3 separate regions of the Homo sapiens genome follow, and regions 1 and 3 are each linked to region 2. Evidence: fine-mapped expression QTL. A gene starts in region 2. Each other region holds a variant in brackets. All regions are shown on one strand. Distances are between the middles of the regions. Region 1 overlaps TFEB (transcription factor EB). Region 2 holds the start of TFEB (transcription factor EB). Region 3 overlaps TFEB (transcription factor EB).

Region 1 (9,944 bases), 38 kb after region 2:
GATCTTTCCTGCAGGGGACATGAGCAGGTTCGCTGGGGTGGGCCAGAGGGTACTTGGGGCAAGTGGAGTTTCAGTCTCTAAACCCCTCTATCGCCCTCAGGCCCCTTTCCTGTCCTAGGAGCCATCTATGGCTGAGTCCCACTCCTCCCCCAACCCTTACCACCCTCACCTCACTATGGTCTGGTGCCAGATCTCTGATCCCTGGAATCACATTTCTGTCTGACCAACTCATATAGCCTCCCCTTCCGCCCCCTCCGACCCAGGCTCTCAGGCGGGCTAACCGTCTCAGCGAGATTCAGATTTGTCACCCTCTGAGCCTCCTGGGCATGGATGTCTTGGCTATTTAGCAAAAAGCATCTGTGGGTGGGGTCTGGGAGGGCTGAGGAGCATGCAGGCCTCTCTGGGGAACCTCTGTAGGATTCGCTGAGGGTGACATGGGATGAGGGGGGCGCAGGACTGGGAGTGCAGGGGACAACAAGCCATCTACATGGGGAGACCTTTCCTATGGGCCCCAGGTTACCTCTCCTGGGCTGGAGCTGCTGGTGGTCACATACCTGAGAGACCTGGGCTTGAACCCCCACTTCACTGTGCTCTTGCAGTGTGACTTCTGACAAGCTGCTTAATCTTTCTTTTTTTTTTTTTTTTGAGACGGAGCCTTGCTCTGTCGCCCAGGCTGGAGTGCAGTGGTGCGATCTCAGCTCATTACAACCTCTGCCTCCTGAGTTCAAGCCATTCTCCTGCCTCAGCCTCCCAAGTAGCTGGGACTACAGGCATGTGCCACCGCGCCTGGCTAATTTTTGTATTTTTAGTAGAGACAGGGTTTCACCATGTTGGCCAGGCTGGTCTCGAACTCCTGACCTCAAGTGATCCACCTGCCTCAGCCTCCCAAAGTGCTGGGATTACAGGCATGAGCCACTGCGCCTGGCCTACTTAACCTTTCTGAGTCTCGGTTTCCTATCCTGCTGTGTTGCTGTTTATCCCATCAAGTGTTTGTGTGGATGAATGTGATTGAACAGAGGCCCCTTGCGCAGTGCAATGTGGGAGGGACTCGGAGCGTTTGCCAAGTGGGTGATAACTGAGTGTGTGGGGGTCACTGGACCAGCAGCCCTTGAGGGCCGTGCATCTCTTTCTGGAAAGTCTGATGGGTGGGATGGTGTGGAGGTTCTGAAGAAGAAAAGTGATTTCTCTGAAACTTCCTTGTAGCTGAGGAGACTGGTAGGTGGCAAGGAAACAACTAGAGAACAAAGCATGGCAGACACAGGCAGGAGGCTGGAGTAGATGGAGTGCCCAGGAGGCGGGTGCAGGGGCACAAGGGGTGGGGGTTCAGTCCCACCACTCCCCAACCCAGGAGAAAGGTGGCTGCCTGCTAAGGGGATCCTTAGACTGCAAGCGGCAGCTGAGGGATGCGGCTACACGTGTGTGCACATGGACATGTGTGCATGTGTGCGTGCATGTGTGTGAGAGAGAAGAGAGAAAGAGAAGCAGACACGGAGAGACAGAGCGTCCACATGGGTGGCTGGGCCGGTCCGTGCATATCACAGGGGTGGAATCCTTTTCTAGTTTCTCCTTTCATGTTCCTATTAGCTACATGTCCCTCGTCCCTGTCCTGCCATGCCCAGTGGCAGTCGTCTTTGCCAGGGCCCAGCTGGTCCCAGTGGGACAGGACAGGGCGACTCCCTGGTCTGCAATGGCCTTTGAAGCTGCTCCCCCTGTTGTCCCGGGCCAACAGTCTGACCAGCCAGGAGGCGCCAGTTCCCACCCTTTCCTGTGGGATGTGAGCTGAAACTTGGGGCTGATGGGCCTGAGCTGTGGGAACAGGAGGCCATTAAGTGGGCCAGGAGCTTGTGTGACCGCCCTTCCTCTCTCCTCTCCTTCCTTTCCCTCCTCCCCACCTCCTGCTGGTGCTCAGAGATTTAAAAACAAGCCCCTGACTGCCCCCTGCCCCCAGCCCTGCAGTCTCCCGCAGCGCATTCCTGCAGGGGGTCTGGGAGAGGCGGTGCAGAACGCATCCTGGGGTCTTGCTCTGCTGCCACTGAAGCGCATTGTGCAGATCTCCCTTTTGGAGCCTCTGCTTCCTCATGTAATTCATTCTTTGTTTCTTGATCTTTTTTTTTTTTTTTTTTTGAGACGGAGTCTCGCTCTGTCGCCCAGGCTGGAGTGCAGTGGCGAGATCTCGGCTCACTGCAAGCTCCGCCTCCCGGGTTCACGCCATTCTCCTGCCTCAGCCTCTTGAGTAGCTGGGACTACAGGCGCCCGCCACCATGCCCGGCTAATTTTTTGTATTTTTAGTAGAGACGGGGTTTCACCGTGTTAGCCAGGATGGTCTCCATCTCTTGACCTTGTGATCCGCCCGCCTCAGCCTCCCAAAGTGCTGGGATTACAGGCGTGAGCCACCGCGCCCAGCCTCTTTTGTTTCTTGATCTTTATTCATCACAAATAGGGGTTGGTCAGTCCTCAGTAAGTGTCCCCACTTGGCAGAGCGGTTCCATTTCATGAAATATACTGAAGACCACATCCTGCATGACAGCCTTTGTGTGCTGTTGGAGACCATAGCACTCAGCCATGGTGATGCAGGACAGGGTCCCGGAGGGAACCTGCCAGGGTGATGGTGACATTCTCCATCTTGATCTAAACAGTGATTATACAAGGCCACACACCTGTAAAAATTCATTGAGCTGTACACTACAAATCTATGCATTTTGCTAGGATAAGTTACACTTCACTAAAAGGGAAAAAGACCAAAACATGGCATTAAAACTGTTAAAAGCATGTGCGTGTCCCATTGACCTCATTTCTGCTTCTGATATCAAGGACCTTTCAA[T/G]CAAACAGTGCACACTTACCAGGTGTCCTGGGTTTGCTATGTTTCTGTATCGGAAGTTGCCAGCTAATATAATAAAAGGCTATATTATGAAGTATCTCCAGTGTGCCAGGAACTGTGGTAAACACTCCGACTACTTATCCCTTAGAACCCAAAGGAGTGGACATTGTTATTGCTCACCTGCCTCTCTCATCTCCTGCAGTGAATGACATGATATACAAGCTCTGGAAAAGAAAATCTTAAAAGACCCAAGGCTTTTGGAGAGGAAACAGAGGGCTCCTGGTAATAGGAAAAGCTGGCCTGAGGCCTTCCTGCCCCTATCTAGTAAGGAGAGACTGAAGCTGGGGTTACCACTAGGCTGCTCTGCCCCAGTCTGGGCTTTCAGATGGTGTGTATGTGTGTATGTGTGAATGAATGGGTGAATGGATGGGACACTTTCCCCAAAGGAACTTATGCAGGGATGCCCCCAGTGGGCCTGGACGGAGCAACACTGAACAGTGACCAGAATGGTGACACCTCCCCTCTGCCCACAAATTCACACCTGCAAGACAACTTACACACCCAGCCTCCTCACTTAGAGCACAACTGCTATGAGGTAGACGTGGCCCCAGCTGGCAAGCCCTGCTTGACTGATGGGGAGACTGAGGCCATACCCAGACAATTGAGTCCAGCCCAAGGCTAAGACTTGAACCCAAGCACTTGGCCTTTCCCACAGCATCATATGGGCAGGACTGCTGGCTCCTGGGAGTCGTAGGATACCTTTCCACCCCTCACTCTGTTTGGGTCTGGGCCATCTGATGCCCCCTCCCCAGGCCCTACAGTGACTCATGACCACCTCCGTAATGTGGAATGGCTTTGTCCATGAGGATTATGTGATGTCCTTGTTCTGTTTCCTAGTTCATCAGGACTTCCTCTGCTGCCTCCTCTGCCAGAGGGGGCTGAGAAAAATCCCAAGTTTGGTATTTTTTTCTCTCTTCCCTTCCCTAGGCTGAAAGGTTCCTAGGAGGCCACAAAGCCCTTCCTTTGCCTCCAGGAATCTCGAACCTGTTCAGGAAGCTTTTGTTTAGCGGTCAGTTTCTTTCCCCAGGACTGACCGGGCAGCTCCCCCACGACTGAGAGTGTAACAGACTGAATCAGAAGAAAACTTCTTCCGACCACAGAGGTGCAGAGCGTCATCAATGGCTTAAACAGGCCTCCCAGCCTCTGGGCTTGCACACTTTGTTGTTTCAGCCGCCAGACATATGTTTTTCTGGGAATACAGGAAATTATCTCTGCTCTTTGAGGAAGGGTAGAATTTTTTTTTCTGCCTGTGTTTGGGGATTCCAGACTGTTCCATCATCCCGGACACCCTCTGGCTCCTGGGCTGGATGAACGAGATCAGCCGCTGAAACTCTTTGATCGCAGGGAGGCTTCTTCAGTGAGAATTTCTAAAACAAAACGTGGCCGCCCTCACCCTGAATGCAGGACTGAGGCCAAACTCCCAGCCCCAGGGTTGGGGCGGTGCAGCCAGACTGCCAGGGTCCAGCCTTGCCACTCATTAGCTCTGTGACCTTCAGCAAGTGACCACCTCTCTGGGCCTGTGTTTCCTCATTCCTTGAATGGGGACAATAATGGTACCCACGTCACTCATATCATGAAATAATTATGATAATTACATAAGGTGCTTTGAACAGTACCTAGCACACAGTAAGCATTCTATGAGCATTAGCTGTTAGCATAAAATATTTTTTTTTCAATTAGAAAGATATACATCTTCATTCTAGAGAAAGAATAACATTCCAAAAGGCTTTTAAAACCACACAAAATACTTATGGTTACATCATCCAAAGAAGTCAGTAATAATTTTGTATATTTCCTCCCAAGAGGTTTTTCTATACATATTTTTACATTGTGATGATCAGATTTTATATACAATTTCCCCCTACATCCTACATTTTGTCACCTGACATATCCTCATGTTATTTATTGTAAGTATAGCAGTCCATCAGGAGGGACACACCGTAATTTATTTAACTATCCTATAACTGGACATTGAGGTTAGTTTTGACTTTTTTCCATATAATGTGAAGTGCATCTTTATGCACAACATCCTTTTCTGCATCTATGATTACTTCCTTGGACTGGTGAATATTTTTCAAGGCTTTGACATATATTGCCAAATTGCTTTTCCAAAGAGGTTGTACCAAGGTATGCTCTGGCAGTTGTGTTGAAGGTGCCTGGTACCAAAGGCATTTTAAAGTCATAGACACACTTGGGGAAGGGGGGGGGTTTGGAGAAGGGGTGGTGTTGGTGAAGGTAGTTTCCCTAACTCTTCTTTTAAACTATTTAACGTCTGCCCTCATTCTTTTTTTTTTTTTTTTTTTGAGATGGAGTTTCACTCTTGTTGCCCAGGCTGGAGTGCAATGGTGTGATCTCAGTTCACTGCAACCTCTGCCTCCCGGGTTCAAGCAATTCTCCTGCCTCAGCCTCCCAAGCAGCTGGGCCTACAGGCATGTGCCACCACACCTGGCTAATTTTTGTATTTTTAGTAGAGACAGGGTTTCACCGTGTTGCCCAGGCTGGTCTTGAACTCCTGACCTCAAGTGATCTGGCTGCCTCGGCCTGCCAAAGTGCTGGGATTACAGGCGTGAGCCACCATGCCAGGCTGGTCTGCCCTCATTCTTATGTGATTTTAAAATGAGAATACAACACACATACAGAAAATTATAAGTTGTAAGGGAGCAGCTGTACAAATTATTGTAAATATGACACTCTCATGGCACCAACACCCATATCAAATTACAAAACTTTCCTAATCCTCTTACCCACCAAGCCATCTTGTGTCCCCTCCCAGACACTCCCCCAAGGGTAATTAGGATCCTGAGTTCTAACATAGTAGATTAATGTTGCGTTTTTTTGAACTCATATACGCAGAGCATGCTGTATACACTTTTGTGCCTTGGTTCTTTCGTTAACATTATGTCTGCGAGAGTCATCTATGTCATGTGTAACAACAGTGCATTTGCTGTCATTGCTTTGTAGCATTTGATTGTATGGATGTACCACCACTTCAATTTATTTTATTTATTTATTTTTTTTGAGATGGAGTCTCACTCTGTCACCCAGGCTAGAGTGCAGTGGCATGATCTCGGCTCACTGCAACCTCTGCCTCCCGGGTTCAAGCGATTCTTCTGTCTCAGCCTCCCGAGTAGCTGGGACTACAGGTGCACACCACCACGCCCGGCTAATTTTTGTATTTTTTAATAGAGATGGGGTTTCACCACGTTGGCCAGGCTGGCTTCGAACTCCTGACCTCAAGTGATCTGCCCGCCTCAGCCTCCCAAAGTGCTGGGATTACAGGTGTGAACCACCATGCCTGGCCCACCACTTCTTTATCTATCTTTCTTTAGTGGACATTTGGGTGGTTTCCAGTTTTGGTTCCTATACACGCAAACATTCTAGTATATGTGCTTTGGTGAACACGTGGATGCTTTTCTGGTGGGCATGCATAGGAGGGGGTCCATGGGTCATGGAGTGTGTTTTCAGCTTCCTGCTCCAAGTTTTAAAGGATCATTTAGAGGGCAGAAAAATCCCCAAGGCAGTTCAGGCCTCACAAGCCACTGAATGGACTGGCGTCAGCTGACAATAGTTTGAGGGCACTGCATGAAGATGGTACTCCCCTCAGAAGCCCTTGTCTGGGGCTGTGGTAGAAACTGAGTGGGGCCCTGGCCCTCCAGCTCCAAATGCTTGGTGGCTGCTGGCCCTGGCTCTGTGCCTCTGCTGGCCACTCGGTGTCCTCACCCAGGGACCGCGGCTGGCCTAATGACCACTGCACCGAGCAGGGCAGGGCTTGGGCCAGCCCAGGTGGAGCTGGGGGGATTCCTTCCCCTTGGCGACCCACCTTTGGACATGACTGGAAGCCCTGGAAGCAGGTTGGGCCCCCCCATAAACCCCCAGAAGCTGCTGTGCTTCCTTTCTCCTGTTAACAGAATCACACAAGTCGCACATATTCCCACTGTAAGAGCTGAGTGCTTCTCCAGTGGAACGAAGAACTATAAAAATCCCTCTTTATCCCTCCCCCTCCATTGCCCCTTCCCACTCCCCTCCCCAGCGGTAACAACTCTGAACAGTTTGGGGTGCTGGGAGAGCCCAGAATAGTAGTTAAAGAGTGGGGGCTGTGAGCCAGCCTGCCTGGATCAAATCTCCATTCTGCTACTTAATCAGCTGTGTAACCTTGAGTGAGTTCCTTCACCTCTCTGTGCCTCTGTTTCCTCCAGGAAAAATGGGGATAATACTAGTACTCAGCTCATTGGGTTGTTGGGAAGAAAAAACAGAATTAACATTAGGAAAAGCACATTGACCAGCCCTGACCCATGGCAATCATTCACGAAGCATTTAGCGGTTGGTACTCTGATCTTCCTGTTGTCTACACATATACCATTTCATGATTCATGGGCTGGTTCATACTAAGGTGTAAATGACTGACAGGCAAGGCCCACACACAGACTGGATGAAACCAGCTCTGGCCTGACCAGAGGAGACCGGGATCCCTGGTTATGAAGCGACTGCCACACACTTACCTTGAATCCCCCCAATGGCCCCAAAAGGCAGGTGCTGTGATTAGCAGGTGCTGCGTTTTAGAGAGGAAGACAGCCTAGCACAGAGAGGTGAAGTAGCTTTCTGAAGTCGCCTAGCCAGTAGGGGCAGTGAGCCTGTGGGATTACAGAACTCATTTTGGACATGACTAAGCTGGAACCCAGTCTGGGCTTTGAGGCAGAGTCAGCTGAGAGGCTGTGGGTGGACAGCAGCAGGAGGCAGCTGGAGGGTCCTGGGGGTGTTGATGGGGGCAGCCATGTGATTGGGGAGAGGCAGGGATTCTCTGGGGGCATCAAACCCTTCCTCTCAGGAGGAGGGTGTTACCTGGGAGGGGCAGGGGAGAAGGCTCTCCAGGGAAGTGCCCCATCCCTGGTGTCTACATGCAGTAGGCACTCCAGGCCCCCAGTGTTACTGAACCTGTACACAGTGGACCCTTTCCAGGCATGGTGGGTCTGAAGGGCCAGATGGTGGGAGGGGCCAGGGACATTTTGGTTCTCCCATGTCCATCCTCTTAGTTCTTCCTGGCTAGACTGGGTGTCAGGGGAGGCTGAGAGTGGACCCTCAGGATTTTAGAGTGAGTAGGCATGCTTGGAGGCTAAGGATGGGGGGATTAGCATGTCCTGGACCACCCCCATCGCTCTCTGATCCCCTCAGGTCCCTCCCTTACCCCATACCCATCCCACCTACACCACACTCAGCAACCCAGGCTGGCGACCAGGGCCAGGGGAGAGGGCTGGAGCTTCACTGGAGGACAAGCTTTGTGGGTGTGACAGCTCCAGCGGTGGGGTTGGGGAGCCTCACTACCCTGCCAGCCTCTGTCAGGGGACAGTAGCTGAGGCTACTGACACCCACTGATGCACAGACACCTCACTGTGTCCACTTCTCCAACGTCCTCTCCCAGGAGGCTCACCCAGATTCTGGCAGGGGGCGGTGGGGCAGGGATTCCCAAGTCCATTGTGCAGATGAGAGAACTGAGGCTGGCCCAGCCAGTGAGAGGCAGGGTCCAGCCCAGGCTCTCCTCATAGCAAAGCCAGCTCCAGTCCACGCGAGGCCAGGCCAGACGCTCAGCTCTTTGTCAGAGAAACAAGGGGATCATTCTCCCCTAGCCCTCCCTGTGCCGGCTGGCACTGCCAGGCCCGGTGCCCACACCCCCACCAGGGCCAACTGAAGTCAGATTGTCCCCAAGGGTGGGGGGGTGAGCCAGTGCCGTGTGGGTGGGTGTGTAGAGGGTACAGCTGCGAGGGGGTGGGTTGGGCTGGGGTCAGAGCCTATGAGGTCTGTAGGGCTAGTGTGCGTGTGGTGGGCAGTGGGGGTACAAAGACAGGGATAACCCTCTGTAGCAGCATAGGAAGGGGGTGGGCAAAGGCATGGGTGGAGGCTGCAGCTGTGTTCCTGCTGCAGGATGGGAAGGGAGTGGTGGGCATCTGCTCCTTTCTTTCTGGGGACTGCCCCGTTGGTAGCTGGGTGGAGAGACCCAAGGAGCTGAGACAGCCCCTTTACTGATTCATGGTGTAGAGGGGCAGAGAAGGAAGGAGGGTGGGGTGAGGGCCACTGCCTGCCTTCCTACCTTGTCGGGAAGGCACAGTGGTGGTGGGAGGAGCCCTGGCTGGCAGTCAGGTGGCATGGGCTCCATTCCTGGGCCTGGCAGCCAGGCAGCCTGCAATAAGCTTCCTCCCTGCTCTGTGTGGAGACCCTCTCCTCCCCAGCATGGGCTCAGAGGCCATGCTGCCTGGGGCTGGGTTCCAGCTCTGTCCCTTTCACTGCTGAAAGACACTTAATCTCCTGTGCTTCTGTTTCTCCTTATCTATAAAAGGAGAGTAATATGCAGAACTACTTCATAGGGCTCTTCCAGGTGAAGGAGTCTGGAACATTGCCTGACATACAGTAAATGCTCAAATAAATTCAAGTTATTATTATTTCTATTATCTGGTGATTTTCACTGAATATTTGCCAGTTCTTTTTGCTAATGCTGACTAAGTCCAGTGTCTGGTATTAGCCAGAACATGTCAGCCTTTGCTGCTTCCCTTTGCTATCCCCTGAGGTCTGGGCCTCATTGTTAGGAGCTTGAGACACAGCTCTGGCTTCTGGTCCACACTGATCAGTTCGCCTGCCAGTCATGTGCCCATCCATGTCTCATGCACTCAGCCTCCCAGGTGCTACATACTGTGCAAGACCTATTAATTTCATATAGTGCTCCAATCTTCTGAAGCAGAGACCGTTTACTAATGAGAAATTGACTCTCAGAGAGGTTAAGTGACTTGCCCAAGGTCACACAGCAAAGAAGTGGCAGAACTAGGATTCAAGCCCATATTTTCTCAGTTCAAAAGTCCTTGCTCAACCACAAAGTCATACTGCCTCTTGCAATATCCCCAAGATGGGACCCTCCAGCCCCTACCAGGACCTTCATGGGGTCTGGACACACTCAGGAGCCCTGCACCTCTCAGAGTCTCAGCCTGTCTCAGCTGGGGAGGACCTTAGAAATTACTGGGTCCAACCCTTTCATTTTGTGCATGGAGAGATGGAGGCTCAGAGGGGGAGGGGACTTACCCAG
Region 2 (9,944 bases):
GGATACAGCCCTGTCCTCAGGGAGCCCCAGTCTGAAGGGAGACTCAGTGCTCTCCTCAGGGAGCCCCCGTCTGGATCAGGGAAGGAGCTCTGTTTCCCTGTGGAGGTGACTGCTCAGGAGGAAAGTCCTTTTCCATGGCACTCCCTGACTTCCCCTTCCCTTTCTCTCCTGCAGCCAGCAGGGCTCCAGCGGGGGAGCGGTTGTCTTTGGGGGTGTGGATAGCAGCCTGTACACGGGGCAGATCTACTGGGCGCCTGTCACCCAGGAACTCTACTGGCAGATTGGCATTGAAGAGTGAGTCTGCGGTGGGGCCCTGGGGATGTGGCACTTCCTTGGAGTGGGCTTCCAGGCCATGTCACACACACACACAGTCTGGCACTGCTCTGGGATGGGGCAGAGGACCCCTGAGGCTTACTCCTACAAAGCCACAACTGTCCTCTGCAGGGGTGACAAAGCCCAGCTCAGCCTGGAGAAGAGAGTGGATGTGGACAACATAGGGAGGGGCAGGACCTGGACTCCCGAACATTAGGGACCCTGCAGTCCAGCCCCATCATGGGCTCACAGATTAGAAACGAAGGTGTGTTAGCAACTAATTTGCTCAAAGTCCTTACAATGAATCAGTGGACCTGGTTTTCAGTGTTTTTAGAAACTTCCTTGACACTTTTAAGGACTAGGTCCCATGGCATGATGCAGGGGAATAGCCGGATTGATCTTTGCAGGGTCCTCACTTTCCTCAAGAAAGTAGCTGTAGCTCTTTGTCCCACAGTGGTGGGGAAAGCCCGCCCCAGCTGCCCTGAACTGGGGGAGTCCTGAGGCTGCCTGTCTTCTCCCCATACAGGTTCCTCATCGGCGGCCAGGCCTCCGGCTGGTGTTCTGAGGGTTGCCAGGCCATCGTGGACACAGGCACCTCTCTGCTCACTGTGCCCCAGCAGTACATGAGTGCTCTTCTGCAGGCCACAGGGGCCCAGGAGGATGAGTATGGACAGGTGTGACTGGTGAGGGTGTCTCTCTTCCCCAGGAGGCTACTCCAGAGGCATTCATGATTTCTCCTGGGAACACAATAGCCAGCTGGGCGCCGTGGCTCATGCCTGTAATCCCAACACTTTGGGAGGCCAAGGCAGGCAGATCTTTTGAGCCCAGGAGTTTGAGACCAGCCTGGGCAACATGGCGAGACTCTGTCTCTACAAGAAATACAAAAATTAGCTGGGTGCGGTGGCATGCGCCTGTAGTTCCAGCTACTTGGTAGGCTGAGGTGAGAGGATTGTTTGAGCCCAGGAGGTGGAGGCTGCAGTGAGCCGTGATCTCACTATTGCACTCCAGCCTGGGTGACAAAGCAAGACCCTGTCTCAAAAAAAAAAAAAAGCCTAACTCTTGACCTCCAAGCCTCTATCTGCCCAAGGCGCTGGAGGCAGGGGGACCTGGGACGACTGGGGCTGTGTGCAGGATGGGGGCCTGGAGGCTTGTTCAGGCGGGGCCAGTTGCTTGTGCTGAAGGGGAGAAGGAGGTTACTATTAGGCAGGAATTTCTTCTGAGCTGCAGTCACTCAGCAGAAACAGAGGAAATGCTTGCTGGACTTTGGGATAAGAGCAAAATGACTGGAATGTGGGGCTGAGTATGTGAGCAACCAGGGCTGACCCTTTATCCCCACCTCTCTCACCTCCACAGGGCCATGCTCCCCTGCGCTTGTCTGTCTTGAGTCCAGCCAAGGGTTTGTTTAATTAACCCAAGCCCACTACCACTAATTTTAATTTTGGGAGACCAGTGGGGTACTCATTATGCAGATCTGTGTTTTTCTTTTTTTTTTGTTTTTTGTTTTTGTTTTTTTGAGACGGAGTCTCTCTCTGTCGCCCAGGCTGGAGTGCAATGGCGTGATCTTGGCTCACTGCAACCTCCACTTTCCTGGGTTCAAGCAATTCTCTGGCTTCAGCTTCCTGAGTAGCTGGGACTACAGGTGTATGTCACCACGCCTGGCTAATTTTTTTGTATTTTTAATAGAGATGAGGTTTCACCATATTGGCCAGGCTGGTCTCGAACTCCTGACCTCAAGTAATCTGCCTGCCTTGGCCTCCCAAAGTGCTGGGATTACAGATGTGAGCCACCACGCCCAGCCATCTGTGTTGTTTTTGTCGTTGTTGTTGTTGTTGTTATTGTTGTTTTGAGACAGAGTCTCACTCTGTCACCCAGGCTGGAGTGCAGTGACACAATCTCAGCTCACTGCAAGCTCCGCCTCCTGGGCTCAAGCAATCCTCCCACCTCAGCCTCCTGAGTAGCTGGGACTACACGTGTGTGCCATCATGCCCAGCTAATTTTTGTATTTTTGGTGGAGGCGGGGTTTCATCATGTCACTCAGGCTGGTCTCGAACTTCTGGACTCAAGCAATCTGCCTACCTCGGCCTCCCAAAGTATTGGGATTACAGGCACGAGCCACCATGCCCGGCCAGATCTGCGTGTTTTAAAATGCCACTTGCAAGCTGGGCATCATGGCTCATGCCTGTGTATGTGTGTGTGTGTGTGTGTGTGCATATATATATATGCATATATATATACATATATATATGCATATATATATGCATATATATATGCATATATATATGCATATATATATGTATATATATATGCATATATATGTATATATATATGCATATATATATGCATATATATGTATATAGGCACTTGCAGAGAAAGAGCAGAGGTTCGATCTTTAATATGGGAAATCGAGGCAAGAGGAGTTAGGAGGCTCTGGGATCACTCCAAATCACACCCATTCTATGAGTCCATGGGATAATGCCAGCATTACCTACACAGGACTTTCCCTTGGAGCTGCATTCTCTAGTCCAAAAACAGGCTTAGGGCTTGGGCCCGGAGCTCAGGCCTGGGATCCAGGGGCTGAGATGATGGGGCTGGTGGGTGCTATCAGGGGGAGGATGAGTTAACCAGGGACCTATTCCTCTTGCAGTTTCTCGTGAACTGTAACAGCATTCAGAATCTGCCCAGCTTGACCTTCATCATCAATGGTGTGGAGTTCCCTCTGCCACCTTCCTCCTATATCCTCAGTGTAAGTCCTGGTCCCTGCAGGCTGAGCCACCATGATTGGGGTTGGGAGGAAGGGCTGGGGAGCCAGAAATGCTGGGTCTCCTGCCTTGTGCCATTTTCCGACTCCACGCTTGTACTCATTTATCTTCCCCACTCATTGATTCTAAACCCCCTTCTCTGGAACAAGGCTATGAAATAGAAGATTGTCATCTATGATCAATTATTATTAATTAGTGGGGAGAGGCACTGGGCTCTTTGTTGAGCACTTACTAGGGCAGACCACTGTGCAAAGCACTTTGCTTCATGATCCCATTTAATTGTCACAGTATTTAATGAGGGAGATACTCATTTCTGTTTTACAAATGAAAACTTGGAGGTTCAGAGAGGTTGAGTAACTGACTCAAGGCGACACAGCTAAGGTTTGAATTCAAGTTGGTTTGGCTCCAAGGTTTAACCACCAGGCTGATCTGCTCCAAATTGGGAGCAGGAGGGAGGTCTGTGGGAAGAGAAGTTTCCCATCATGGGGAGAGGAGACCCTGCTGAGGACCACGGCAGCCTGAATGTACCTGTTCCAGAAATCCTCCCACCCGCTCTGCTCTGGTGGCTCAGTTGGCCTATGAGCCCTCAAGGCAGAGACCCTGGCTCCCTCAGCTCTGCACTTGTGCTCCCAGCCCAGGGCTCAGAGCTGAGCAGGGCCCAGCTCATGTGTGGACAAATGAATGAGTGCTGCCTTTCTTTGTTGAGCAGAACAACGGCTACTGCACCGTGGGAGTCGAGCCCACCTACCTGTCCTCCCAGAACGGCCAGCCCCTGTGGATCCTCGGGGATGTCTTCCTCAGGTCCTACTATTCCGTCTACGACTTGGGCAACAACAGAGTAGGCTTTGCCACTGCCGCCTAGACTTGCTGCCTCGACACGTGGGCTCCCCTCTTCCTCTTGACCCTGCACCCTCCTAGGGCATTGTATCTGTCTTTCCACTCTGGATTCAGCCTTCTTTTTCTGGACTCTGGACTTTCTCTAATAATAAATAGTTCTTCTTTATGTTGGTCATCCTGTTGTTTTTGGAAGGGAGTTTTCCCTGAGTGGCTACAAGGTTTCCTGGTGGGTCACTGTGATTCTAAGAGAAATGGGACCTAAGGCATGGCTTGGGATGGGCTCTGTAACCCTCAGAGCTTAAAGTTCATACTTTTCCCCTGGAAAGGGAAGACAGTGGTAGCGCCATCATGGGTGGGTGGGTGGCGGGCCGGGGGAGAGTGTTCCTACTTGAGTCACAGAGAAATCGAGCCTATTTGCTGGAACCAACTCAGCAAGGGATCTTGTCCCTTTGGACTTCATCCCTGTCCTCCTCAGGAGCCTCTTAGCAAAAGATCCAGAAACCAGGAGCAACATTGTATGTGGGGAAGGAGGAGAGAGAGGAAGAAAAGGAGGAGGGGAAGGAGAAGAAAAGCAGGGGAGGGGCTGGGGGAGGAGACAGGGAAAAAGGGGCGGGGAAGAGGAGAAAGTAGAGAATGATGCCTCCGCACCCTGTGAACTTCCAACAAGGGAAGGTGACATGAAAGGAGCTCAGACAATTTCTGTCCAGCAACATGACAGCAAGCTCAGGCTGGTGAGTGGGGCGTGAATGTAGAACCCATAATGGGGGCAGGCTGCCTTCTACTGTCATATTTTACCCTGTACTTCGCCAGGCTCACCCTGGCCTTGCCCCTTATGATCGGGGCAGGGATAAAAGTGCAAGATCCAGGTCCTGCACCCTACTCCTGAAGAGAAGCTGGAATTTGCCACAGGTGGAGTTTCTATGGCAACAGCACACCATCTGGGACCCTCTCTTTCTTAGACTGCCGAAGGACAGCAGGCTGCAGGTTCCTTTTAGGGGGTCGGACAGGCTACAGAATGTATCTTAGTGAGCCCTGGTTTGGGACTTTACTGAGAGGAGAAAGAAAACTTGCAAAGAGGTAGAAGTGGATCAGAGGTTCCAAGTCAAGAGCCTCTTTCCCTGTAAGCCTTAGTCCGCTGAGCGGGACTACAAATCCCGGCGTGCCTAGCGGGACTGCAGCGAGAACTACGCTTCCCAGTGGGCGCCGAGGCAGAGCGGCTGGGAGGCGGGGCGGGTGCTGCCCTCTGCCGGGCGCGGAGGGAAGTGTGCGTGGAGTGACAGCCGGAGCCCGGGCGCCGGGCGCGGGGCTCGGTGACAGCGGAGGCGGCGGCCCGGGCGGGACGCAGGGAGCGGCCGCGGCGCCGACGGCGGCGGGAAGGGCGGACGGGGCGGGCCTCCCTGGTGGCACGGGGCCGGAGCAGGCCGGGAGCAGGTGGCGGGCACAGCTTGCGGGCCAGGCACCCGAACTTGCGACAAGTTGCCGGAGCCGCGGGGCGCGGGCGGCGGACAGATTGACCTTCAGAGCGAGGTGAGCGGGACCGGGGAGCGAGAGGCACGAGGAGGGCCCGGGACCCCCGACCCAGGCTCCCTGGCCCCTATCCCGTGGGTCCCGGAGACAGGTGGGAGGGTGGGGGATGCCGGCAGGAGAGGGAAGCAGGACCGTGCGCGCCGCCACCCACCCGCAGTCCGTCCGCCCCCGGGCGCCCAGCGCGTGGCCCGAGCGGCGCTGCCCGCCGAGCCGGGAGCCCCCTCGGCCCCTCCCTTCAGGCGCGGGCCGGGGGCGGCTTCTCCGCGACCTTATGTAACCGGGCGGGAGGGGCCGGGCGGGCATGGGCCTTCCCGGCCCGGAGCTGGGAGTCGAAGGGGCGGGAGGCGTGATGGTGAACTCGCAAGAAGTTTGAGGGACGCGCGGGCCCCGCGCCCACTCCCCCTCCACCGGACACGGCTGGGGCCGGCGATGCCTGAGAGGGGGTCGGAGGTAGGGGAGGTGTGCGGGGGCTGAGTCTGGCCAGGCCAGCGGGGGGAGTGGGAGGGCCAGAGCGGCGCCACGCCCCGGGGGCTGGGCTGATGGGGGGGCGGGTGGAAGTACCATCTCTCCCTCCCTTCCCGTCCCTTCCTCCAGCTCGGTCTCTTGAAGAAGCCGCCCCTGGCCCCGTCCCCTCGAGTCCCTGGGCAGTCTCTTTCTCCCCGTGGGTTATTCTATGACCCTGGGGAACACCAACCCCGGAGCGCTCCCTCCGTGCGCCCCGTTGTCTGCCTCCCCCCGGGTTCCCAGCTGCCTGCCCGCCCCCCGAGTTTCCCCCTCCCCCCGTCTCGGTCCCGAATCCCGGAAAACACGCCCCCTTCCCCCCGATCCCCCGAGTCCGTGCCGCCCACCCCTGGGCTGTCCCGACCAGCTCTGGCCCAGCGCGTCCGCTCGCCTCCTGGAAGGGAGCGGGCAGATGCCAGCTCGGCCCCCTCCCCGCGCGGGGTTCCGGCTTCACGCACGGCTGCCCCGAGCTGCTCCGGGCTGCGCGAGCAGGTTCGCGCCGCAGCCGCCTGGCGCGCCCCAGCCCCGCGCCCCGGGTGAGGAAGGGAGGGAGCCCGGGGCGGGGCTTGTCTGCGCGAACCCCGCTGGGCCCAGGCCCCCGCCCTCCGCTCTCCGCCAGCCCCTGGCCGCTGCGCCTTCCCCCGAACCCCCCTCAGCTCCAGCCGTCGTTCTCTCGCCTGTCTGTTCTGGGGACGGTTCAGCGCGGAGCTTCTGCACTCAACTTGAGCGCAGTTTTTGGCTTAGAGCTCGCTGGGGAAGTGCAGGTTAATTACTGCCCAGCTCCCATCCTCTGCCCTCCCCCCATCCCGAGTGAGGGGCTGCTTCATCCCTCAGGGAAAGGGACAAGACGGATGCAGGCCCCCAGTGACACCTCTGGGGTGTGGCCTCAGGCCCCTGCACCCGCCCTGGCCGAGATTCCATTGGCCCAGACCTGGCACTGTTGGGCAGCTGGGGATGAGGTTGGAGGCTGGTCTCTGGTTTCCTTCTGGGTGGACAGATGCGGATGCGCTCGGTTAGAACGCAGTTCTTGGTGCCACGACTGGGAGACAGTCCTCAGGCCCTCCCCTCAGGGAGCTCACTGTCCGGGGAGGGACAGCCAGCAATAGTTCCTGGCCGGCCAGGAGAGGCAGAGGCAGAGGAAGGGAAGGGTCAGCTGCCTTGAGGTCCCTGCCTGCTAACCTGACGGTATGCTTTCACCATGCCGGTGACCCCAGCCCCAGGACCACGAGCAACTCGCCTGGCTCCCTTCTCTCCGTCTGCCTCCTGGCCGCGGGGCCCGGAGAGCTGGGAGCCAGAGGGTGTAAATGAAGGGCAGAGCTGTTTGGGTGACTCCATGCTCTGCTTCTCCCCGAGGGAAGCCAATGGTGCTTACCATTTACAAGGCTTGTTACAGCTGCAGGGTTATTTTGTCCTCAACTCAGCTCTGGGAGACGGAGCCAAATGGGGACCCAGGTATCTTGGTTCCGGGTGCCCTGGAAGGAGTTCAGGGGATAGGGCAGGGGACACCCTAGGTGGGCACTGAATCTAGGGAGAGCCAACTGGGCTTTTACGGGCTAATGGCCTGGTGACTCACAGTCAGAGGTGGGCAGGGAGTGGGCCAGGGCAGGCAGGAGCCCTTCCAGGGTCCCACGTGCGCTGTCACAGGCCTCCTCAGCCTGTTTCTGGAAAGCTGAGAAGTAGGTGGAAGGGGACTCCCACCCCTCAAGTCTGGCTGCCCTTTGAGGGTCTAGCTCTTGGCCCTGAGCCCTCCTGGGGCTCTGTTTATGACTGTAATTGCATCATTAGCCAGAGTTAATAGAGTTACTTAGCACCTGCCCCCACAGGGAGTAGCCCAGCCACCCCCTGGGTTCTGTCTCTTCCTTTTCAAAGTCAACTCGGTTTCTGCAGGCAACAGGGGTTTCCCCAACCACAGCTGTCATGAAAACCAGGTTGGGCCTTTGTCCTGGGGATGGAGGGCAGTCAGCACTTGGGGCCTGGCTTGGGGCTGCCCTGGAGATGACCATGGAAATTGGGTTGGCCTCCTCTGATCGGAGGGTGGGAGTTCAGGGTTCCCAGAGCTGCCAGAAATGTTCACGTCCCAGGACGCAGTGAACATATATGCATGTACAGTGTGGATCCTCATCTGAGAGGAGGGAGATGAAAACACACCCACCTCACAGGCTGTTGTGAGGACTAAGGGTGCGGCAGTGCCTGGTACATGGTGAGTACATGATGTTGCTTTCTGGGTTGGTGTGGGGTTTATGTAATGGTTGTGAGTTTGTGTGTGTGGTTAAAGTGTCTAGGAATGTGGGTAGAGATGAACTGTGCATGTGTGTCTATGAGAGTGTAACAATAAAACAAGATTATATTAATAGAATATTCATCTCTTCTTTTATGCTATACTAGAACAATATTATAATAAGATTGATTATACAATAGTTGCCAACATTTATTGTGTGTTTAGAGTGAGGTGGGAATTACTGTTTGCATTACACTTACTTACTCAGAGAGGTTAAGCAAGTCACTTAAAATCACACAGCCTGGAAGTGACAGGATTGGAATTTTAACCTAGGTCCAATTGACTCCAAAGTCTGTGTTCTCAGTCCCTAAAGAAGACCACTTCTTCAAGGGGTTTCCCAGGAGTTCTCTCTTAAAAGGTGGGGGTGTGGTGGTCTGGGGACCTTCTTTTCTCTATCCAGGGTTTCCTGCTCTAAGCAGATCTTTGGGAGGCCTAGGTGGGAGGATCACTGGAGCTCAGGAGTTCGAGACCAGCCTGGGCAACATAGCGAGACCTGGACTCAATTGAAAAAAGAATTTGTATGAAAAAAATAAAAATAAAAAAGCAGGGTGGGAACTTGCTGAGGCCCCTGTCTGAGCACCATACCTGTTTCCTGGCCTTTCTTCTGAGCTGCCAGCATGGGTGACCAAAGGACCTCCGGCTGGAACCTGTCTTGACTGGCCAGGGAAGGAGACTGGTTCAGGCAAGACTTCCTGGGCTTCTTTGGAAGCCCCAGACACCCAGGAAGGGAGGAGGCATCCTTACTGATGGCCTTCTAGGTGCCCGGCTTTGTGCCATGCATTCCACGTCCATTAACGTACAGTGCAGCCCTCAGCAGGCCCTTGTTTAATCAGATGTGCAGAAGAGGCTGTGGGGATCATTGGGTGAGAATGGGACGGCAGTAAAGTCATAAGAGCACTGGACCAGGAGTCGAGAGACCCCACTGTGCCTCTCACTGGCTGTGTGGCTGGGCAGGTCTCTGCTTTGTTCAGCCTCAGTTTCCATATCTGTGAATCTGGATCATCTGTGGGATTCCCTCCAAAGCGAACCTTCTACAAATCTTTGCCAAAGGCACCGGGGAGGAAGAAAAAGGAAGAGAAAGCAAGGGGTGGTGGGGGTGGGTTGTTAGGGGTGTTTGGGAGATGCTGCAGTCCGCAGAATTGAGCTTTAGCTAAAGACTGGTCCTGGTGAAGCAACCAGGAAGTTTTTCTTGGGACAGCCATAGCCACTATATATTGAGCACTGGACCAGTGTCACCTGGTCAGGGGGTTGTTGAGAACGTGGGCTCTGGGGCCAGGCTATGTGGCTTGCACAGCTCTGCCACTTAACACTGTGTGAGCCTCGGCAAGCTGCTTAACCCCACTGTGCCTCAGTTTCCACACCTAAAAAGTGAGGGTTCTTGCAGCACCCACCTACTAGTGCTGTCGTGAGGGCTGAGTATGCCGATATTGATGCACATGTAGTACTTAGAATAGCGCCTAATGAACTGTTATGACTCAGTGAGTTATTTATTTCTCATTCTTAAGTGAGGAAATAGAGGCATGGAGAGCTCTAGGGAAGGAATAAAGACCTATGGGTTGCAAACAGGCCTCTCCATGTGTCTAATGTTCTCTGATGTAATGCTTTACGTGGGGCTTCCCACCACTCTCTGTCCCACCACACCAGCCTCCTCTCCTTGTTGAATAAGACGGTGCAGGGGGCTTGGCAATGCCTGAGGCATCTCTACCACCCCTGCCCTGCCACTTGGGTTT
Region 3 (9,944 bases), 27 kb after region 2:
CACTCTAGCTCAGGCTGGGGGGTTCCTGTGGGTGTCAGGGGATGGGTGGCCATCCAACTGTGTCCACTGGGCTGGGCTGCCACAGTGACTTTGTGTATGACCTTCAGGGAGTGTGGGTGGCATGCATCAGGACGCCTATCTGTGTCGTTATGACTGGGCGTGAGGGAGGGTGCCACATGTCTAGCCAGCCAGGGAGCAGGGCCAGTTAGCTCCTGTTCCTGGGTGCCTCCTGGCTCTGGGGAGAATAGAAAATGATTCATGCAAAGGGGCCCTCCCTGTTTTGGCCACAGCCTGAGGAGTAAGGTGGCCTGGCTGTCTGCCTTTCCCTGCTGCCCACCAGGTGCCTGAGTTCTCCCCTCCTTCCTCGCCTCAGACCGCGTTTCTCCCTGGGGGTAGGTGGCTGCCCTTCCCTGCAGCCTGACACCCTCTCAGAGACAATTAGAGGAGTAGGCTGCCCATGCCTACAGCTATAAGAGTGAGTCAGCGTAGGGACCGGAGGGGATCAAGTCTCTCTGAATCCTGCGGCCAGACGGTCCCTGCACCAGAAGAAGTGGCCCAGTGAGGCCTGGGCTGGGATGCTGTGGTCAGCACTGATACCAGCTGAGTGGCTTTCCAGCTTGAGAAGACCTGCCAGGGACAGGAGAGGACAAGCTCCACCTGCCCACCACCCGCCTCGCCATCCTGGCTGCAGCCAGCTGGTGACTCATTCTCCTGGGGAGTGAGCCAGCTCCTCTCCTGGGGTACCCCAGCACCCTGGTGCAGGCTGGGTGGCCAGGAGTCCTGGGTGCCTCAGAAAACCTGTGCTGAGCCCAGGGCCCTGGTAAGCTGGGGAGGGAGGACTGAGGCCCTCTGTATGGGGTGGGGGTCGCAGCCAGACTTCTCTTGCTCCTTCTCCTGGCCCCCGCAGACTTCACCCTCCCTCTGGCCAAAGAGGAGGCTGCAACCCCAGATTACGTAATAGGTCCAAAATGCCTCGCAAGCGAGCAGCCCAGCCAGTGGCTAGACTCAGGAGTCCCCATTTCCCAGTACCTGCCACCAGAGCAAGTTCCCATTCCCTTCCTAGGCCGGGTGGGGGAGTGGGTGGTGCTTGCTCACCCCTGGAAAGAGCTGTGCTGCCTGGGAGGGGGTGGGGAGGCTTTCTCCAGAGACATGAATTCTTGGCCTGACCCCAGATGCCAGCCTGCCTGCCCAGCTCCACTCCAGAGTAACGCTGGGTGCACACACAGCCCCATTGTGTGCCTGGGCCCCGTGCCTGCCCAGGGCCTGGCACCGGCTCTATCAACAGCAGTGGCTCCGTCAGCTCCTCAGCAGCCCCTGCCAGTGCTTGAGCCCTTGGGCCCCTGGTGAGGAGGAAGAGGGAGGACTAGTGATTAAGGGTATGAGTCCTGGGTGGGGTACCAGGACCTTTTGGATACTATCAACTATGAGAGACAAGAGCAGGGAGACTTAGTCCTGTTCTCCGAGGAGGAAACTGAGGCCCTGAGAGGCTTCAGTAACTTGCCCAAGGCCTCATGGCTAGTGAGAAGCAGAGCCGGGGTTGGAGCCCAGAGCTGTGGCTGAGCCCCTTACTGGTCTCGTCACCCAATCCCAGACCAGGACTCAGGAAAAGGCACGGTGCCCTCTTTCCACAGCCCCACTTTGGGGAGCCTCTTTCTCGAAAATATATGTCCCCAGGGTAGAAGAGGACCCTGAGACGGTAGGATCTGGAGTCCTGTAGGACCCTGGAATGGTAGGATTTGGAGTCCTGTGTGCTTGTGAGAAACATGGGGGTTCATTTTCAAGGATGGTGCTGGTGGCCAGACAGGCAGAGCAGGTTTCCAGAGCTGGAGGACAGGCTCTGTGCCTCAGTTTCCCTGCTCTACCTGCACTGTACATCCACTGTGCCTTCTAGGAGGGGATAGAAATATTGAGGTGAGGTATGGCCGGGGCTGGGGACTGGACCCCCACTGCTGAGCTCTATAGGCTGTGCGAAGCCCCCTTCACCAACCCAGAACCCCACTCAATGCCTCATGATGGTTCTATTCTAAGTTGGGTCTGAGCCATCCACCTCCTCAGCTTTCCCAGCCTGAAGAGGCCTCTGAGCTGGGTGAGCCTGCCAAGGGGGCAGCCCAGCTCGGTGCCATGAGGGCCCTGCCTCTGCCGCAGGCCCATGTTCCCCCACCCCCCTGCCAAGGTGAGGGTGCCCAGACATGACCCTTTTGGGGCCTGCCCTGTGTTTTACTTTCCAGGCTAGGCTTATTCACTCAGAGAGGCTTGACCCCCTGGGGCTTGGGGGAGCTGAAGGGCTCCTCCCTTCTCCAACAGCCCACCCTTTTGTTCCCCTGTCTGTCTTGGGCATGAAGCCTGGCTCCCTCCTTCTACACCACCTCAGCGCTCTTAGCAAAGGGACAGGGAATTCTGCAGTGACTGCAGGATTGTGAAATGCCAGGGCTGGACCTTGGGGACAGGCAGGGAAGAGAGATGCTGGAAGGGGACACCGAGACTGTGTCCTTTCATACCCCACCTGGGAGGCCAGTCTCCTCCATTCTGCTGGCGCTCATTTTCCTGCATGTATACCATTCCCACCCACCAGTCAGCACACCTTCACCTAAGGCCACAGCGGTGGGGACGTTGAGCCCAGAGGGCCATGTCCGAGTGTCCTCTACCTGGAGCCTGTGTGGGAGAGGAGGAAACCAAGGGACAGCCCTCAAGGAGTTCACACTGCAGCTGAGAAAACCAGAGAGGTGACTTCTTTGTACCTGTTTCTCATTTGTAAAATGAGTACAGTAGTATTTCCTACTTCCTAGTGTTATTGGGAAGGCCAAATGAATTAATACATGATAAAGCCAAGGGCCTGGCACTGGCTCTATCACGGCTTTAGAAGCCATCCTTGATAGATGGTTTTACAACTCAATACAAGTTTTAGTATTATCCATAGTGGTAGAAGAAATACAATATATGCTATCAGGTGATGATGTTTTTTCCAAGCTGGATTGTAAAAACCATAGGGCAAGGGCTGTCTTATTCATCCTTGTATTCCTGTTTCAGACACAGAACCAGGCTTGGAACAGAGTAAGTAATTGTGCCCAAATGGTGATTAGAGGTGGGTGAAGTCAGGGTGTGCTGTCGGGAGGAGGAGGAGACCCTGGAGCAGGGCTTCCAGAGAGGAGGAGAAGTTGGATAATCTGTGGGAGAGGAACTGGGGGAGGGTCTGGGGGCCCAGATTGGGTTGGCGTGAGAGAGCAAGGAGGTCCCCTTGGCTGCACCCAGTGTTTGTTTAGGGAGAGGGATCCTGCATGCTTTGGAGGCCCAACTAGAGCGCTTGGACTTTATCTGGTAGGTAGTGGAGAGCAATTGGGGGTGATGGAGCAGGAAAAAAATGGTCTTTCTATGTTGCTCCATCTGTTTCATTTTGTTTTTGCTCCCTTGTTCTCTGAGGAATATTTTCTTTCTTCATTTCTCCAAAGACAATAAATCCTCTCTGCTCTTCAGCCTCTTCTTTCTGATCCGTAGTTACCCCTGTCCCAAATCCCTGCATTCTGTTCTTGGCTTCTTCTCCTTGGCCATCCTGGCCTGTTGTCCCTGCTGTGCTTTTACCTGGCTTCCCCTTCCTTTATCTGGTCCCTGACCCACCTTCTCTGGAATAGGAGTTGGGTGGAGTTGGACTTGCTGAGAGATGGGTACTGGCATGGCATGACCACATGGTGGGAGCTGGTATGAAGGCAACTGAGCCAGGAGGATATCCTCTATTCTGATGTAACTCTATACATCCTTCAGGGAATGACTCTGCCCCAGTTATGTGGCTAAGGCCCATTAGAAGGATCTTACTTTATATTTGTCAACCTGTTTAATGAAAATGTAGATTTCCAAAATAGATAAATTAGGGAGTGATGGAATCTTATTTTCTCGTTTATAAATTTAGTGGAAAGATCAGCACTTTGGGAGGCTGAGGCAGGAGAATCGCTTGAGGCCAGGAGTTCAAGACTAGCCTGGGCAACATAATGAGACCCCCATCTCTACAAAAAATAAACAAATTAGTGGGGGCATAGTGGCACACACTTGTGGTCTCAACTACTTGGGAGGCTGAGGTGGGAGGATCGTTTGAGCCTGGAAGGGTGAAGCTGCAGTGAGATGTGGTTGCGCCACTGCACTCCAGCCTGGATGACAGAGTGAGACCCTGTCTCAAAAATAAAAATAAAAAATAAATTTAATGGAAAGGGATATTGAACCAGATGGGAACGATGCAGACAACTAGTGCCTTTTTCATCTCCTTTTAAACATCCATCCATCTATCCATGCATACATCTATCCATTATATCCACCTTTTCATCCATTATATCCATCCATCCATCCATCCACCCACCATTATATCCACCTTTTCATCTGTCCACCCGTCCATTTAGGCATGCATCCATTATATCCATCCATCCATCCATCCATCCATCCATCCATCCATCCACCAACCATTATATCTACTTTTTCATGCATCCACCCATCCATTTATGCATGCATCCATTATGTCCATCCATCCATTATATACATGCATCCATCTAATATTTATTGAGCACCTATCCTGTGCCAGGTACTGCATTAGATACTTTATGTTTAATCCTTACAGAAATTCTCCAGGGTGGATATTGTCCTAATTTTACACATGAGGATACTGCGACCCTGGGAATTTAAGTAAGTTGATGAAGGTCACACAGCTAGAAAGTGACAGATCTGGGATTCAGCTTGACTAGGTTCAAAACACACACTCTTAGTGTTTAATCAAATGGCCTCTGTTGGTGTCACCAGTGCCTAGTTCTAAGTGCGGAACATAATAGCTGTGTTATTGAATGAACAGGCATGCCAAGGTTCTGGAATGCTGGAGCTCTATAGCTCTATCCTAGGAGCAGCCTGGGGGCAGAAGGCAATGCTGGGCTTCTAGTCCTACTGGCATTTGCTACCAGCAACCTAATGTTGCCATCACTACCCCCGGTATGGAGGTTTCTTCTCCATGCAACTTGCAACTCTGGCAAGTCCTGTTTTCTTCTCTCTACCATCCCAGCTCTCCTTCTGAGGGCAGTCTTAACCTTCCGCCAAGTGGGGAAGTTCCAAGTACACATTTGGCCATTGCATCCAGCTTGACCAGTCTCCCCAGTGACTGGTCTTCCCCTAGCTCACACCTGCCTCTCTCCTTCCCTGTAGGGTGGGCTAGCTTGCATTACTCTGACCCTTTTATTGGCCCCTATTTCTAAGCTTTAGAGTTAGCTATTCAGTATCAGGTCATAACTGCCTCCTCAGGGCCCATTGGGTGAGGCAAGGATATGAGTGCAAACAGTTTATTTGGGAGGCTCCCCCAGGGAGCACCAGTGGTAGAGTAGGATTCATGAGACAGGAAGGCAAGGAAGCTGATAAAATGTGTGTGAAGGAGCAAGGTGACTGTGGGCATCTGAGGCTCACTGCCATTGGAGGCCTCTGCAGAATATGCTTTAGAGTTCCCCAGTCAAGTGATAGGTGTCTTTGGCTAAGAGGTGGTGGGGAAGGGAGGGAGCTAACTTCATTGGTTCAGGCACCAATTCAGGTGCTGGCACCTGGAAATCTTCAGGTGGGCACTTTTGACATCGTGAGGGCCCAGAGCATGTGGCTGGGGCCCTGATAGCTTTTGCCACCTCATCAAGCCCAGCCCTGGGGGTCTGCCAAGCCCTCTTCCCACATCTCCCTTTCTATGTCCAAGAGGCTTCCCCAGGCAGACCCTTCCCCAGTCGCCAGTTCCACGCTCACTGTGTTTCACAGATACTTAGGGAGCATCTACAAGGTGCCATGGACAAAAAGAGGAAGCTGTCAGGATGCCTCCAGGCACTCACAGCAGAGGAAGGTGACCTGTGCGGCTGAGGCGCCTGCCATGTGGCAGACACTGGCTCGCCCATCCCAGGCCTTGTGCAAGGCCAGCAATGCCCCTGTGGCATGGCATCCTCTCCTAGAGGGAGGTACAGACGTGCTGAGCGCCACAGAGCCTAGAGCCGTCTTCCACTTCCCTCCCAACTCTAGCATCCTGAGGCTGTGATTGTAGTGGTTTTTCTGACTTCCTTTTCCTTTCTGTCACTGCGCCTGCCTCTTCCCCTAGCCCCATGGCCGCCACGTGGCTGCCTTTTAGTCAGCCGGGAACTGAGCCTCCTAGTAGCCTCCCTCTGTGTCTCTGTCAGGAACAGGATACAATTCAGGGACATTTTGGTGGGGGAGTAATTTCGTGCGGTGGCATACCTGTTTGCCCTGGCACAGGCTCTGTCATGTCTGCTTCTTGGAGAGGAGCCTTCTTCCCCTGGGCTCCACCTGTTCCCATCCCCAGCCCTCCCAGCTTCAGGCTACAGGTCTCGCACCCTATAGGGCTGAGGGAATGGGAAGAATTAAAAGAGGGAAGTGGCGTGTAGGTAAGGCCTTCTGGGGTGGGGGCTAGGGGAAGGGCAGGAGATGGGGATGGGGCAGGGGCTGGGCCTGGCGGTGTGCTTCCCCTGGAGACGTGGTCCTGGGCCACAGGCAGGCACGCCAAGTCACAGCCCCTCTGACTTCTTCCTCCAGCCACCAGCCCCAGCCTTTCCCCTTGATGTTTCATTTCCAAACCAGGTCTGCTCTGGGTGCGTGTGCTGGGGTGGCAGGGGTAGGAGTGTGTCTGCCTGTGCCATTCCCTACCCTGTGGGCAGGCCCAGCCATGGCAGCCCGAGTCTATCATCTCCCCACTCCGCCACTTGGATAGGAAGGTGGCTGCACTCACTCCAGGCAGGTGTGTTGTTGGGAGGAGAACAGAGAGGATTGGTTCAGGCATTGGAAGATGGGGTTTATGTCTCAGGTTTGAGCTCAAGCATCTTGGGTCCAGGGAGAAGGTGTAAGGCAGCTGCTGCCTGAGTCTCAACTCTATGGGGGAAAGCAGAGCAGCTCTGAGCCTTGGGGCTGGGCAGGCAGGAGGGCATGGAGCCCAGATGAGTGGAAGAGAATGATGATGAAAGAGCAGACTTCCCGATGCTCCTCCCCCGACCCCATCACATGCAGAGTTCAACACACCCCACTCCTCGCTCTGTCCTGGTAAAGGCAGAGTGCTTCTTATGGTGTTTAAGGACAGGAAAAGGGCTGGAAGTGTGTGTGTGTGAATTTTGCTTCCTGTTCCTTTCATACCTGGGTGTGGGCGGGGGGAGATGGGGGCAGGTTGGGGGACAGCTCACTCACTCCATCCGGTGGGTGGGTGACTTGGTGGGCTGTTGGAATGTTGCCATAGGAGGCCATTTCTCCTCTATGGGGGGAGATGGTGGCTTCCAGGTCAGGTCTCCTCCTCTGGCTCCCTGACAGAGATGGGGTGGGAATGCCAGCCGGAGCGCACATGGACAGGGCAGGAGCAAAGCTGAATTCTGGGTCTAGGGCAGCTGACAGCATTTGGGAATCCTGGGGTGGGCCCCTGTTAGCTCTTCCCAGAACCCCAACTCTTGGGCAGGATGGGGGTGGGGGGGTGTAAGGGTGGTTGGGGGTGGGTGTAGGTGTGTGTTGTGAGGGGAGAAGAGCCCCCGCTGAGTTCCTGGGCCACTGCCTGTGCTGTCTAGTGGCCTCTGCCAGCACTGGCTGCCCCGTCCTGCCCCCACCAGGCGTGACTCAGAT[C/A]GAAAGCAGAAGCTGCCAGACACTGCACAGGGTGAAGTGAGGCAGAACCAACTCTGCTATTTTGGAACCTGGTTAATTCCCCCTTCTGCCCCCCACCTCCCTGCTCTCAGGGCTCCCATCCCCTCCAGCTGTCTGGCACTTCAGCTTCCTCAAGGGGACAGTTGGGGCAGGCCTTGGTTTCCCCTGGCATGGACGTGGAAGGCCATGCTGAGGCCCCTGTCCTTGCTAGGCCCCTCTCCCTGGCCAGAGGTGCTGGATTCTGGGGACCTGCGCTCTGGGGTTGGGGAGGAAGAGCGCCCTCTCCTGGTGGGAACTCGTGGGCAGGGCGGCCCTGGCGAGATGACGGTCACCAGGCCTGGCACCCACTCTCCCCCGCCCATCTTTGGCCGCTCTCAGGCCAGCTGTCAGCTGCCTCTCCCAGGGGTGTGAGCTGACGAGAGCTTCAGGTGGGAGCCTCTCCCGGCAGTGAATCTGAGGGTTGGGAGGGATTTCCGGACCCAGAGGGAAGATATTTTGGGGCCGAGGGCCTTTCCAGAACCCATGAAATCACACACCCTGCTGCGACCAGACTGACCCTCCCTAGTTGATGGTTCTTTTTTGGACATCCTAGGCCTGCTTGGGATTCTGGCCCCATGATTTAGGGTTTCTTTGGAGCCCATCTGAGCCTGGGGGGCCCTGTGGTGGTGGAAGAGGTCCAGCCTGCGGTGGTGAAAGAGGTCAGTGGATGTGTGTTTCTGAGCTGAAAATGGGTGTGGAGTTGAGAGCTGTCACCTCTTCATGGACAGGGTGGATGAGGGTCCCTGGCCCTTCAGAAGCTGTGTCGTTGGGAAGAGGGTGGACTTTACAGCTGTCCCGTGTGAGTGTACATGGGAGTGGGCACAGGCCTTGCGGTATGGCTGCCTCTCAGGGAACCCTGAAGTCAGAGCTCCACTCTGCTGATTACCCCCCAGCAACCTGGTGAGGAGGATGGTGGTATACTGGGGGAGAGGGGAGTCAGCAGGCAGGTGACCAATTAAAATTTGGGTCCTTGCCAACCTCAGGTGGGCAGGACGTAGGTTTCTCATTGTTCAGATGGAGCTGGGGTTTAGGCAGGTGGGAGGCAGAGGCAGAGCCGTGTGGAGGAGAGAGTGGGCTCCTAGACCTGCTGTGGGAGCCTCCACACTCCCAGGCCTCCTGCGGAGCACACAGGCCCAGGCACACACTGTCCCAAAGGTTGTCTGCTCTCTTCTGGAGCTGCTCTTTGGGCAGGCAGGCAAGTCCTGGTGCAGTGTGTGTGTACTGGTGAGTGTGTATGTGTGGACAGTGGCTTATGTGTGAGAGGTGGTGTTTGCATGAATGGGTGTGTCTCATATGGTCTGTCTGGGTTGCTTTTCCACTGGTAACCATCTCGGCTTTGAAGCTGTTTCCCCATAGACCTGGATTGTTTTCCCCTCCTGCACGGGCCAGAGCCCCAGCACCCAGTGAGCCAGAGCCCACCTGCAGCCTTGCATTCTGGCCTCCACCTTGGCTCTTGAGCCTGAGAATCAGGCTGCTTAATTTCCCTGTGGGGCTCAGAAGGGCCCTGCCTGTCCTTTAAAATAGCTCTGTGCTTCCACCAGGGGCCTGTGCTTCCCTGCTGTGTTCTCCCACCCGCCACCAATTTTCATGCTTGGAACCAGGGAACTAAGTCCCCAGAAGGCAACAAGTAAAGTGTCTTTAATGTGCCCACACATCTCCCAGGGCAGTTTGTTAAAATGCAGATTCTGACTCAGTGGGTCTGGGCAGGGCCTGAGAGCCTGTTTCTAACCAGCAAACAGGGCGTGCAATGCCTTAAGAGGCCCTCTCCCATCTAAGGCCCTCACTGTCCAGCCAGATGGCTGGTGGTCACCCAGGCAGGGAGCTAGTACTCACAGACCACCTCCAAGGTGCTAGGCACATCACATATTTCAGTTCCATTTACCCCCTCACTGACTCTGAGGAAGGTGGCATTACCGCCATCCTTTTGTACAGATGGGGAAACTGAGGCTCTGAGCGGTTAAGCACCTGCCCCCAGTCACAAAGCTGACAAATGGCAAAGCCAGATTTGAATTCTGGTCTGTCAGGGTCCAGAGCATATTCGTGATCCACTAAGCCCGGCTGTCTTCCAGAGGGCGGACTCAGGACAGATGACGTGGTGGAGGTGGAGGCGGGGTCAGAGGCTCTGTTGGGGAACTGCAAGGGTAGTCCTGGGTGGTTTTGGATGGAAAGGATATCTTGAGGGGAAGGAGGGTTGAATGGGAGTAGTTCTAGAGGAAACAAGAGCTGAGGGGAGGCTGGTGTCCTGCACCCACCTGCTTAGCCAAGAGCCCCTTCACTGATGG

Evidence for each region.
Region 1: its variant is fine-mapped to the expression of TFEB in whole blood (TOPMed, PIP above 0.99).
Region 3: its variant is fine-mapped to the expression of TFEB in blood mononuclear cells (TOPMed, PIP above 0.99). The same link has a PIP of 0.9 or more in monocytes and whole blood.

The regions. Positions count from the first base shown.
Region 1 is chr6:41,692,646-41,702,589 of GRCh38, reverse strand. All of the region lies in intron 1 of TFEB (transcription factor EB), which reads left to right. Among named protein-coding and RNA genes, the nearest start is that of MIR10398, 36 kb to the left of the region's middle. The variant T/G (reference allele first, on the strand shown) is at 2,822.
Region 2 is chr6:41,730,841-41,740,784 of GRCh38, reverse strand. It overlaps TFEB (transcription factor EB), which reads left to right and starts at 5,177. Exons shown (of 9, transcript NM_001271944.2): 1 at 5,177-5,435. PGC (progastricsin) reads left to right here. Exons shown (of 9, transcript NM_002630.4): 6 at 175-294; 7 at 839-986; 8 at 2,957-3,055; 9 at 3,781-4,074. The coding sequence ends at 3,933. MIR10398 (microRNA 10398) reads left to right here and starts at 7,175; the gene lies at 7,175-7,231. RefSeq lists silencers at 5,019-5,488, 5,529-6,058, 6,189-6,628 and enhancers at 7,279-7,388, 7,879-7,928, 7,285-7,981, 7,999-8,078.
Region 3 is chr6:41,704,024-41,713,967 of GRCh38, reverse strand. The region is part of intron 1 of TFEB (transcription factor EB); the gene reads left to right. Among named protein-coding and RNA genes, the nearest start is that of MIR10398, 25 kb to the left of the region's middle. RefSeq lists enhancers at 6,090-6,199, 6,440-6,509, 7,325-7,825, 7,530-7,909, 8,090-8,309 and 3 more and a silencer at 7,440-7,519. The variant C/A (reference allele first, on the strand shown) is at 7,606.